Regions from separate parts of the Homo sapiens genome. Here region 1 is linked to region 2. The links come from fine-mapping of genetic effects on gene expression. A gene starts in region 2. The other region holds a variant in brackets. All regions are shown on one strand. Distances are between the middles of the regions. Region 1 overlaps RASSF3 (Ras association domain family member 3). Region 2 holds the start of RASSF3 (Ras association domain family member 3).

What was found.
Region 1: its variant is fine-mapped to the expression of RASSF3 in whole blood (TOPMed, PIP above 0.99). The same link has a PIP of 0.9 or more in blood mononuclear cells.

Annotation. Positions count from the first base shown.
Region 1 is chr12:64,693,151-64,698,520 of GRCh38, reverse strand. It overlaps RASSF3 (Ras association domain family member 3), which reads right to left. Exons shown (of 5, transcript NM_178169.4): 5 at 957-3,758. The coding sequence ends at 3,609. Among named protein-coding and RNA genes, the nearest start is that of GNS, 64 kb to the left of the region's middle. RefSeq lists a silencer at 4,038-4,332. The variant C/T (reference allele first, on the strand shown) is at 2,245.
Region 2 is chr12:64,608,090-64,613,459 of GRCh38, reverse strand. RASSF3 (Ras association domain family member 3) reads right to left here and starts at 2,965. Exons shown (of 5, transcript NM_178169.4): 1 at 2,717-2,965. The coding sequence starts at 2,827. RASSF3-DT (RASSF3 divergent transcript) reads left to right here and starts at 3,994. Exons shown (of 2, transcript NR_187549.1): 1 at 3,994-4,115. RefSeq lists silencers at 2,436-2,505, 2,716-3,235, 3,396-3,465 and enhancers at 4,096-4,155, 4,376-4,425.

The DNA.
Region 1 (5,370 bases), 85 kb before region 2:
TGGGAGGTGGAGGTTACAGTGAGCCAAGATCATGCCACTGCACTCTAGCCTGGGTGGCACATTGAGACTCCATCTCCAAAAAAAATAAAGGATAAAAATATAAAAATTCCCAAACATTCTCCACGCACCTTGGGTAGTAACCCAAGTAGAACCCCCAAACCTGATTCCTCTGAATATTTCAGTAGAAAAGCAAAATTATACAGAGCCATAATTTTCTATCACAGTATTTTTATTTAGGGAGCAGCTATGGTACGTGAAAGGCCTCTACCACCTGGTGCCAGCCTTGCTCCTTTCATCAGCCCCTCCAGGGGGCAGTGTAGTAGTAAAAACACTCCCAACAGCAGGCATGGAAGCTGAAACCATGGCACAAAGCCGAGGTGCAGGTGCGCAGAGGGTGGCACTCCATCGTCCCTGTGGTTCCCCAGACACTATCCATCCCATCTGTGTAAGGCAGTCATGGTGACCAAAAAAATACAAATACTCACTTTATGTTGAAGTGGTATGTTTCAGGGGTAGGAGACCTCAGGGCAAGAACAGGGGTGGAGGGAGAGATTTCTAAAGAACTGACAAGGTTCTATTTTAGTAATGGTCAGGGGGTGTCCATTTTATATAATAATCCTTTAAACTGTTCGCATGCTTTTTTATTTTTATTTTTTCACTCTCGGCCTCCCTCCTCTTTTGCATGCTTTATATACTTTTAAATGTGTATATTTCAAAAATTAAAACAATTGTTTTAAATACATTGGAATATGCTGTGTGAGCTTAGGGTTATTTTTCCTCAGAGGATAAGGCAAAGAGAAAATGATATCTGGGAGAACAAATATGACCCACGCGAACCTAGTAAAGTTGTTGCATTCCAGCATGTGTCCCTGTGTATATGTGCAAAAGCAGCTCAGCGCACTCCTGTGACCTTTTTAAATCTAGCATATTATCATAAATAAACACACATAAACAACTAATAACTTCAATTTTTAATAATGGAAACAATTTTGCCATTCTAGAAACTATTTTAGGGGAGAAAAATCTTCCCTACAAAAATAAACTTAAACCCATCAAAATTATAAATATTATAACTTTTTACTTCTGCCATTTAAAATGCTCTCCTGCAATACCACCCCTTCATTTAACATCCTTCCTGTACCATCACATATTGAAGAGAAAACAGTATTACAGCAAAGCTTAGATAGTTTAACATAATGATTTGTACAATGATTCTTAAAAAATCTTTGGCCTTAGTGGCCTTTTTTCTTCACTTACACATTAAAAATGCTGCTGCAGTAACCAGTGTTTGGGAAAGGACATCAGTCTTCAAGAACCATAAACTGACAGAATTTCAATACAGTAGGTTTCCAAATTGCAATTTGTAGTGCACATGACAGTAAGCGAGGTTTTGGGTAAATATAGATGAGGATGCCTATTCAGACAATCTACTTCAAGTAAAAAAAAAAAAAAAAAAAAAATTCACAGATACCCATCAGCTACTACTTTAGGTTCTAACAGTGTCTTAATCTGAGAAACAAATGCTTCACAAAATATAAGTTTACTGGGATGAATAATTAAAAAACCAGGTGGTAATAACAATATACTCAAATCCAGGCCATAGTCTGAATAATAAAACCAGTACAAAAAATCACGAAGGCATTCCCTGAACAATAAAGGTAAAGTGTTGGATGACAATGTCACTAAAACCTCATCAATGTACAAAAGAGAAGTTACATGCAAAATTAAACAAGATGTGCCATACATATTTTATAGCTAATTCTATTTTTTTCAACTTTCCTTAAATGCTTAGGAAGATATGATTGTCTCAGTAAATTGTGTGGCACAGCATAACAACTTAAGTCTGCCTCCAACAAGATGGGTATTCTCCAAAAAGTCAGAAGAGCCACCAAGAGACGAACAGAAATGCAATAAAAGGCACAGTTCACTTGGGCAAAGAACTGAAGCACCTTGGAATTTCAAAAAGAATCCATTAGGTGTCACCAAAGTGTTAACAATTCCTTGGGAATTTATAAACAAAAAATATCTAGACTAAAAATAGAATATAAGGCCCCTCTGGAACCACTGCACACCTTTCCCTCTGTTCTCAGATTAAACTGCTGCATAAAATGAGGTTATTTAGCCTGTTTTTAAGGAAGGCTTCTATTGCACATGCATCTCTTTGGTTGGTAATAACATGTACTTTTGTTAAAATATTTCCATAATGAAGCCCTGTTGTGTGGTTAGCTGGGTGTGGACTTTCCT[C/T]CCTTTCTTGGGGGCCCTCCTACTCACAGTCAAGTTGCCCTTTAGAACTAAAGATCTGGTAGGATTGGGTCTTTATTCAATAGCCCTGTTCTCTATTATGTAAGAACAGATTTCAATGTAGAAAAGAAAGGGAGAGGGAGAGAGAGGGAGGGAAGGAGGGAGGGAGGGAGGGAGGGAGGGAGGGAGGGAGGAAAAGAACAAGGTAGGGTGGGAGACAGCAGGGAAGGAAAGAAAAAAGGGAAGAAAGGAAAAGGAAAGGAGGAATAAAAGGGAAGAGAGTGATTGTCACCAAAGTTTACTTGACAAATATCCTAGCTAACAATCAAGGGAAAAACAGCTGCCCCTACCCAAATTCCGTCTCAACTTTGAAAACCACCTGTGGGGGGAAAGCTATACACTATGTAACTTAACAAGAGTTAGTGAACTGTCACTGTCCTGCCTATGCAGAGCAGCTACACCAATCAGACCTTCCACTCCAAAAGGGCAGAATTAAAGGGTCGGATCCAGCTGCGTGAGGCCCACCTCTGCCCAGGTCAGTAGGCTACACCTGCCTGATTCTCTGATTGGTCAGCTGCAGAGTTCATGGGTCCCTCCTTTTGGTTTAGCTCCTGCCTCTGGCTCTGTTCCCATATTCTACCCACCAGGAAACCAAGCGATCCTAAAATGGGTTTAACACCTCCACACTGAATGCTTTTAACTCGTTTACAAGCAACTACCCCTTTCTCCACTACCCCTAACTGAAAAGCCAAGTCACCTTCCATAGCCCGCAGCACTCGCCACCACCGCACATGCCTTCTTCCAAACTTACACTTTGCTTTCTCTGTCAACCCCCTAACAAAATCCTTCACAATAAATTCCTCAGAGTTCCTAGATTCCTGTGCCTTTCGATTCACATGGATAGATTCCTCTGACATTAAAAAAAGAAAACAAAACCAAACAAAAAACCAGACAGGTAGTTTCAAAATAGGACAAGTATTCAGAAAGATTCCTAGTTAAGCTTTTTAAAAAATCAACTGCATATCTGTAAGCTTAACAGCATCATCACATAATTAAAATAACCAAAAAAAAAAACACCCCCAGAGTTCATGCTTCCAAGCACCCTCGAATGCTCCTGATGAGGCGACAGGTTCACAGCTTGCCAAGAGGTAACACTGCGGTGCTGAACAACAAGCTTGCAGAGTCCCTTACATGGGACGCTAAGGTGCAGGATGCTGTGTGACCAGGTTTGGGGAACAAAATCTACAGATAGAAAGGCGAAGACCCTAGCATAGTGGGGCAAGACAGCAGCCCTCTGAGAAGAGAGGCACTTGCTGCTGTTTTGTACATCGGTCCTGCACCGGGCCTCACGGGCAGGGAGCCCCGCTTTAATCAGGCTTCCACACCTCACGGAGGGCTTCTTCCAGCTTCTGCCTGTAGGCTGTGTAGCGCCTCTTCAGGTTCTGCAGCTGTTCATCTTCTTCCTTGTCCAAGATGCGCAAGAAATTCTGTAGTTCTGGAAGGCTGAAGGCTTCCCACTGTCAGGAAACACAGAAAGAAAAATGCCAGATGTTTAATACTCAGTTAGACTTAGGAATGCTGACCAGGAGCTCCCAGAGGTGCGGCTGCCCTCCCCTCCCAGCCCCATGCCGCAGAAGGTGTGGTCTGCAAGAGCTGGGGTGTTGCCAGCCTAAGGGCTCCCTCCACTCCCACTCCCACCTCAGCTCACACCAATCACCTTCCTACCCTCTCCTCCCACTGTTCAAGACGATCTCCCTAAAAGCCAGAGACCTCCATATCCCTAAGTCTATTGGACACTTTCATTCCTTACCTGATTTGACCCCCAACAGCATTAAAAACAATTCGACAGTCCTTTCATCTTAACCTCGAGTCCTCATTGTAACTGACTTTCTTACCTCGCATAATCAGTCTTATCACCCCCAAACAGTTCTCCATTCAGCCTTTTCTCCCTCGGTACGGCCCCTTGGTGCTAGCTACTATCATCTATTCCTGCATCGCTGGAACAGCTTCCTACCTGGCCTCCTCACTCGGCTCTTATGCTCCCCCATCTGTTCCCCAAACAGAACATCCTTTGTAAAATGCTCATCTGGCCAAGACTCTCCCCTGCTTAGAACCATCCAATGGCTTCCCTTAGTTGCTGATGCTGTCTGAAAGACTCTAAACTCTCCGGCCCCATCTCTCTCTCACCGAGCTTCACTCTCTGCCCAAGTGGCACGCATTCTCCCCTCCTCCACTTTGCCTGGCTATGAACTACTCATCCTCCCCATCTCAGCTTAAATGCCACTTTCTCTAAGCAGCTTTCCACAACTTCCTCTCCTCTCTTCCCACCCAAGGCTAAGTGTATCAAAAGCCTTCACAGAGCCCCTGATCACAACCAAGATTTTTAAATTACAATTATTTGCTTAATATCTATCTCACCTGCACCTTACCTACACCACAGCTGCCGTACTTCTCGCTATTTGGAGTTTATCTCTTGCCTTGAGGCTCTGAGCCTTGTTTCCCTAACAGCTCCTAGTACTTATTTAGCAGGCACAAAATAAGTTTTTAGGCTGGGCATTGTGGCTCATGCCTATAATCCTAGCACTTTGGAATGCTTAGGCAGGAGGATCATTTGAGCCCAGAAGTTCAAGACCAGAAGTTCGAGACCAGCCTGGGCAAAATAGTGACACCAGGTCGCTACAAAAAATTTAAAAATTATCTGGCTGTGGCAGTACATTCCTGTAGTCCCAGTTACTTGGGAGGCTGAGGTAGGAGGATTGCTTGAGCCCGGGAGATTGAGGCTGCAGTGAGCCATGATTGCGCCACTGTACTCCAGCCTGGGTGACAGTGCAAGACCTAGTCTCTTTAAAAAGAAAAAAAAAAAAATTAAAACAGATTTTAAAAAATAGAAGCAGTGAATGTCAAGGAGGGTATCTAGCATCATCTACGAGGTTTTTTCCAAACACATCCTCCTCTCCCAAAGGGGGCCCTGGATCCTGGTGGAGAACTGCTGTCTGATGGTGTAGAGAAAAGATTCAAGATAACCAAATACAAACAAAGAGTGAAAAATAAGTAAATCCACCAAATGGGCTCAGTGGTAGAAGAATTCCTGGAGAACAGTTTAGGCTGGTTATTTAAAAAAAAAAAAAA
Region 2 (5,370 bases):
ATTCTGCATTTACCACAAACATCTTGTTTTCTCCGGATATTTTCAAGAAATCTAGAAACCTCATTTTTCTCACTTTTCCACCAGGTGGTACAGCATCCAAAAAAAAAAAAAATCACTGTATCTCTAATAGATCCTTCTAGCAATACCTCTCTTTCCATCTCTCTAGAGAAAGGATAAATTTCACTACTATGATGTATGTCAGAAGTGCTTATCTTATTCTTATAATCATCAGCATGAAAATGAAGAAAAAGGCTTATCTAACGTTAGATAAAAGGAACATTCTACATTAAGAGTGTTTTGCTTTATATTTATGATGTTTTACTTCCCTAATTCACCAATCTTACCAGGAATTTAAAACATTCATATCACTTCTTTAAATAAACCACAATGCTCACTAAAATTCGTAGTTTAGAACACTTTCTCTGCCTGGCAAATAACTTCTACAACTCAGCACCTTACATGTGTTATGTTAGAAGGGAAAAATATGCAGGCAATAAAGCTTCAAATACACATATGAAGCTCTTCAACCACGAACTATGTCTTCCTGTCCTGATTTCCAACACGATATTTCAAAATACATATTAATGTTAGACTAATTCTAAATGCTAAATAATACTACCCTGAGTATAATATATATGCTAGATGATACATAAATGATTGCATACAACATAGAAACAATAAATGTGCCGGGGGCGGTGGCTCACATCTGTAATCCCTGCACTTTGGGAGGCCAAGGCGGGCAGATTACCTGAGGCCAGGAGTTCGAGACCAGCCTGGCCAACATGGTTAAATCCCATCTCTACTAAAAATACAAAAATGAGCCAGATGTGGTGGTGCATGCCTGTAATCTCAGCTACTCGGGAAGCTGAGGCAAGGGAATCGCTTGAACCAGGGAAGCTGAGGTTGCAGTGAGATCACACGACTGCACTCCAGCCTGGGTAACACAGTGAGACTCCATCTCAAAAAAAAAAAAAAAAAAAGAAACGCTAAATGCATATAAACCTAGAAAAAAACTGATGTCTTTACTCTTTAAAGCACTAAAGGATTCTCATACAATTCAAACCTGAATAGTTTGGCCCTTGTGGCATCTCACCCCTGGAGAATCCAAGAACCAGCCAGTTTTCAGGAGATTAGCAGACACCTCTGGAATAAACTTCAAACTACCATGAGTTCCTTTTCATGTCAAGTGGTGAAAGCAACATAAATGAAAGGAGAAAATGCAAAACGGAGAAGGGGAAGAGAGAGGCCAAGAAAGAGAAAGCAAAAATGGAAAAAGCATAAGCAAATGCAATTTTTCTACAACCCAGGGAGGGTGGGCATGGGGGAGGAGAGGGCGTTTCCAACTTCCAAACTTCACAGCAATCTCATGCTCTCAGAACACACTCTGCTGAAAGTAAGAGATCCCACTCAAAGTGACTCGTAAATAGTGGGGCCTTAAGCCTTAGAAACAATACAAGACGGACAACTATGGCACCGGGACTTGAGATTAACTGCGGTTACTGAATAAGGGCACTTGACTTCAGCTTACCCTTCACCGTCTCCTCTCCTCCTCCTGGTTTGGGACTTAAGAGCCTGAAAAGACTAGAACTTCCGAATTTTAGAAAGAATTTTACTTCAGAAAGTGGCTAAACTTAAGAGGTCTGGCAAGACCACCCTGACAGATTGCACCCTCCCACATCCACCAAAAGAAGTTATCATCCGGCCCCTGAACGATTCTTCTTGCTTCTAGTCTCTAGGTCTCAGTCCGGTATTAATAGAAATGTTTGGCGAACGCCTGTTTTCTAAAAGCAACAAATTTGTGCCATTACAATCTTCTGTAATCTGATGTGAGCGTGGCCGGGTTGGCCCGGCTCCCCTGGTGCGGCTCCTAGTGCCAGGAGGCCGCGGGCTCTAGCACCGGGCTCCTCAGTCCAGCCGACGTGCCCCGTTTCGGGAAGGCCTCCCAAAAAACACGGCTACAGCTGGCGAAACTGGCACAAGTTCCCTTCCCATCTTTTCCCAACTCGTGCTTCCCACGGCATGCTGCCTCCAAAAAAGGAAGAAACCGGCGAAAAGGTTAGCTGTCGCTGGCTAGTATTTAGCATAGGAGCTTGTTTGCAAAACATCTGGGCACCAAAAAACCTAGCTTTACAGAAAACGCACAACCCTGAGTCCCGCAACGGAGATTTAGTGAGAGCCTATGGTGGCGAGGCCCACGGTGCCCTTGGACCCCCACTCCACCAGGTCGCCCGGGCCAGGAAGAGGGGAGGTCAGGTCACCCGGCCACCCCTAGCTATTACACGTTGACCCAAGCCACTCTGGGGGCCACAGATGAGTAAGCTGACTAACAGGAAGGACAGGCGCGCGAACCCGACCGTCGACCCAGCGGGGACGCGAAGGGGAAACCTGGGGGAGTGGCCCGGGGACGCCTGCTGGCTCCGGGGCTGCTCCCCGCAGGCGGCAGCCCGAGGCGGAGCTGCAGAGGCCATCTGGCGCGGAAGGCAGAAGCCGGCCCTCAGCCTCCCCGCCCTTCCTCCGCCTTCCCTCGCCTACACGCACAAGCTCCAGGCACGTTCCCGGGACCCGAAAAGGCAGAAGCCACTTCTCGGCCCGCTCCTCCTTCCCGGCGAGCATCCCCCGAGCGCCCCGCAGAGACACGTGGAGGCAGGGGGCGCGGGCTGGCGGGTTCCCCGGAACTCTGGGGCGCGGGCTGCAGCGCCCGCCGCGCGCCACTCACTTGTTGGCCGGAGCGGGGCTTGCCCTGGGGCGCTCTCCTGAAGAAGGAGGTCCTGGCGGTGAAGAAGAAGTCCTCGGCGTCCTCCTCCAGGCTGCTGTAGCCGCTGCTCATGCTGCCGGTCCCGTCGCGCGCGGGCGGCCTCCCCGGGGCGCAGGCGGCCAGGGAGGGGGTGCGGCGCCCGCCAGCCCCGCGAGGTTCCCGGCGCGCAGCCCCGGGCAGTCCTTATGCAGCTGCGGCCGCCGCTCAATCAGGCTCTCCCGGCCCCTCCTGCCGCCTCCCCGCCAGGCTCCAGGCGCGGCTCGGCCCCGGTGCGCCCGCGACCCCGCCTCCCTGGGCCCCGCCCCGGACGGGCGACCGGCCGAGCCCCACCCCGCGCGGCCGCGACCCTCCCCGCCCGCCCGCAGGTGGGGGGAGCCCGGCCCGCCCCTTCCAGGCGCGCGGGTTTCTCCCGACAGCGTCGCGGAACCCGGAAAGCCGGGCGCTAGGGCTGCGTCTGCTGGGGCTGTGCTCGGGTCGCTTCCTCAACCTCCCGGAAACTGCAAATTCCTCTGCGAGCCGTCCGCCCGCCCCCAGCCTCGCTGGCTCGAGTTTCGGAGAGGGCGGGAGCAGAGCGGGGAACTTTCTCTGCGTCCACTCCCTGCTCGCCCCCGCACCAGGGTCCTGTAGGGGTGGGTGGGGGTTGCCCGGCCGAGGGACCCCCCAGGTCCCACGGCTTCCTGCAGCCGCAACGCCCAGTCCTGAACCCCAGCAGCTCGCCCCTCCAGGAGGATTTCAAGTTGGCAGAGATGGGTGGGGAGGTCAAAAACTGGGTTGAGTTTATTCGAATGAAAACATCCTTTCTGGTCATTCATTTGAGCTTCGGTCTTACCCTTTTCCCCTTCTTTCTAGCGAGGGCTCACTTCCAAATAAGATCGTTATCTTAGGCGCACTCAGTGCAACTGAAAGGTGAACTAGTTCTATAGTTACAGAACAATCGAGTGCTTATCAATTAAATGTGCTTTGTAAATGTCCCCGCCACAATCAGCCTTCCACGGTCACCCACAAGGCATGGTTTAAGTGGTGGGGATAAGGAGATCAGGGAATTCCATCCATCCACGTACAAAAAAAGTTTCCATGTTTTCTAAAACTCTTCAGTCAGCTAATCCTCTTAAAGCCACCAGTGGGTAACAGTCTTTTACACCTTGGTGTTACTGCACTGATTTAAATAATACTAATTTCAAGATCTTGACTGAAAGGTTTTTTTGAAGCTGCAAGCCCTGCTATAGTTAGCGAGCTTCAGAAGAGGTTTCATTAGGAGGGGAAGAGAGACGTTAGAAAAGAGAAAATGTCCATCCATCATAGCCAAACTAGCCAAACTCTCTTACATTATCTCCTTCAATCCTCCGAGCAACTCTGCAAGGTACGTAGTGCTATTTTATGCCGGTTTTACACCTAGAGCAGCAGCTGAGGCTTAAAGAAAGGAAAGTGGCTGTAGGAGGCAGTACTCGGACCGTTCTGCTTTGCGTTCTGTTGATCTGAACGTGGTCACATACCCTACTGGGTTCTCTGCTTGGTATCGGTCAGCCGTGCTCTTTTGTGGACTACAGGAGGAAGAGTTGGACCCGAAATGACGGGAAGGAGAGAAGAATTGACTCATGAGTCATCCTACTGTCCCTAGGCTGAAAGAAGGCTTGCAAACCTGCTCCACCTTCGGGCTTACACATCCATCTTGTAAACTAGTATATATTACCCCACGTGATTCACAACAACTCCAGAAGGAGGGCCTTTGAGTTACAGCCCATTTTAAAGGTCCTACAACATTAAAGTCTTCTTCTCGGCCACACAGCTACTGAATGATAGGAAGCCAGGAATTCTAACTCCATATAGTTTCACCCAGCTTAAGCTGATCCGTGTGTGTGCCATGCACATAATCTAATGTAGGAGAATAGGGCTTTATGACAAATTTTTCTTATTTGGTTTCTCTTATTTCATTATTCAGATATAATATTAGCGCAGCTCTTATTAAATATTCCAAGGTAAGAATAATGTGTAGGTTAAGGGCTTAAATTACTCATTTTATTGTGGGTAGAAAGGGGAAAATAATTTTACCTAGAACAAGTTGAAGTTTATGAATACTTTGAGGAAAAATGCATTAAAATGCTTTATTGGCCGGGCGCGATGGCTCACGCCTGAGGAGGCAGAGGCGGGTGGATCACTTGAGGTCAGGAGTTGGAAACCAGCCTGGCCAACGTGGTGAAACCCCGCCTCTACTAAAACTACAAAAATTAGTTGGGCGTGGTAGCGTGCGCCAGCTACTCGGGAGGCTGAGGCAGGAGAATCGCTTGAACCCGGAGTGGCCTAGGTTGCAGTGACCCGAGGTGGCGCCATTGCACTCCAGTCTGGGCGACAAGAGCAAAACTTCGTCTCAATAAATAAATAAATAAACTTTATGATGCACCACACCATAAAAATGATTTTTTTCATTGTATTATTTTTAAGCTCCAAAGGACTGGATTAATTTGTATATCTGTCAGCATACCATCAGAATCAGTTATAATAAAAAGGCATGATTGAGTGGGGCACAGGGGGAAGCTGAGGTGGAGGATCACTTGAACTCAGGAGTTCCTATCCAGCCTGACCAACATAGTGAGACCTTTTCTCTAAAAAAAAATGAT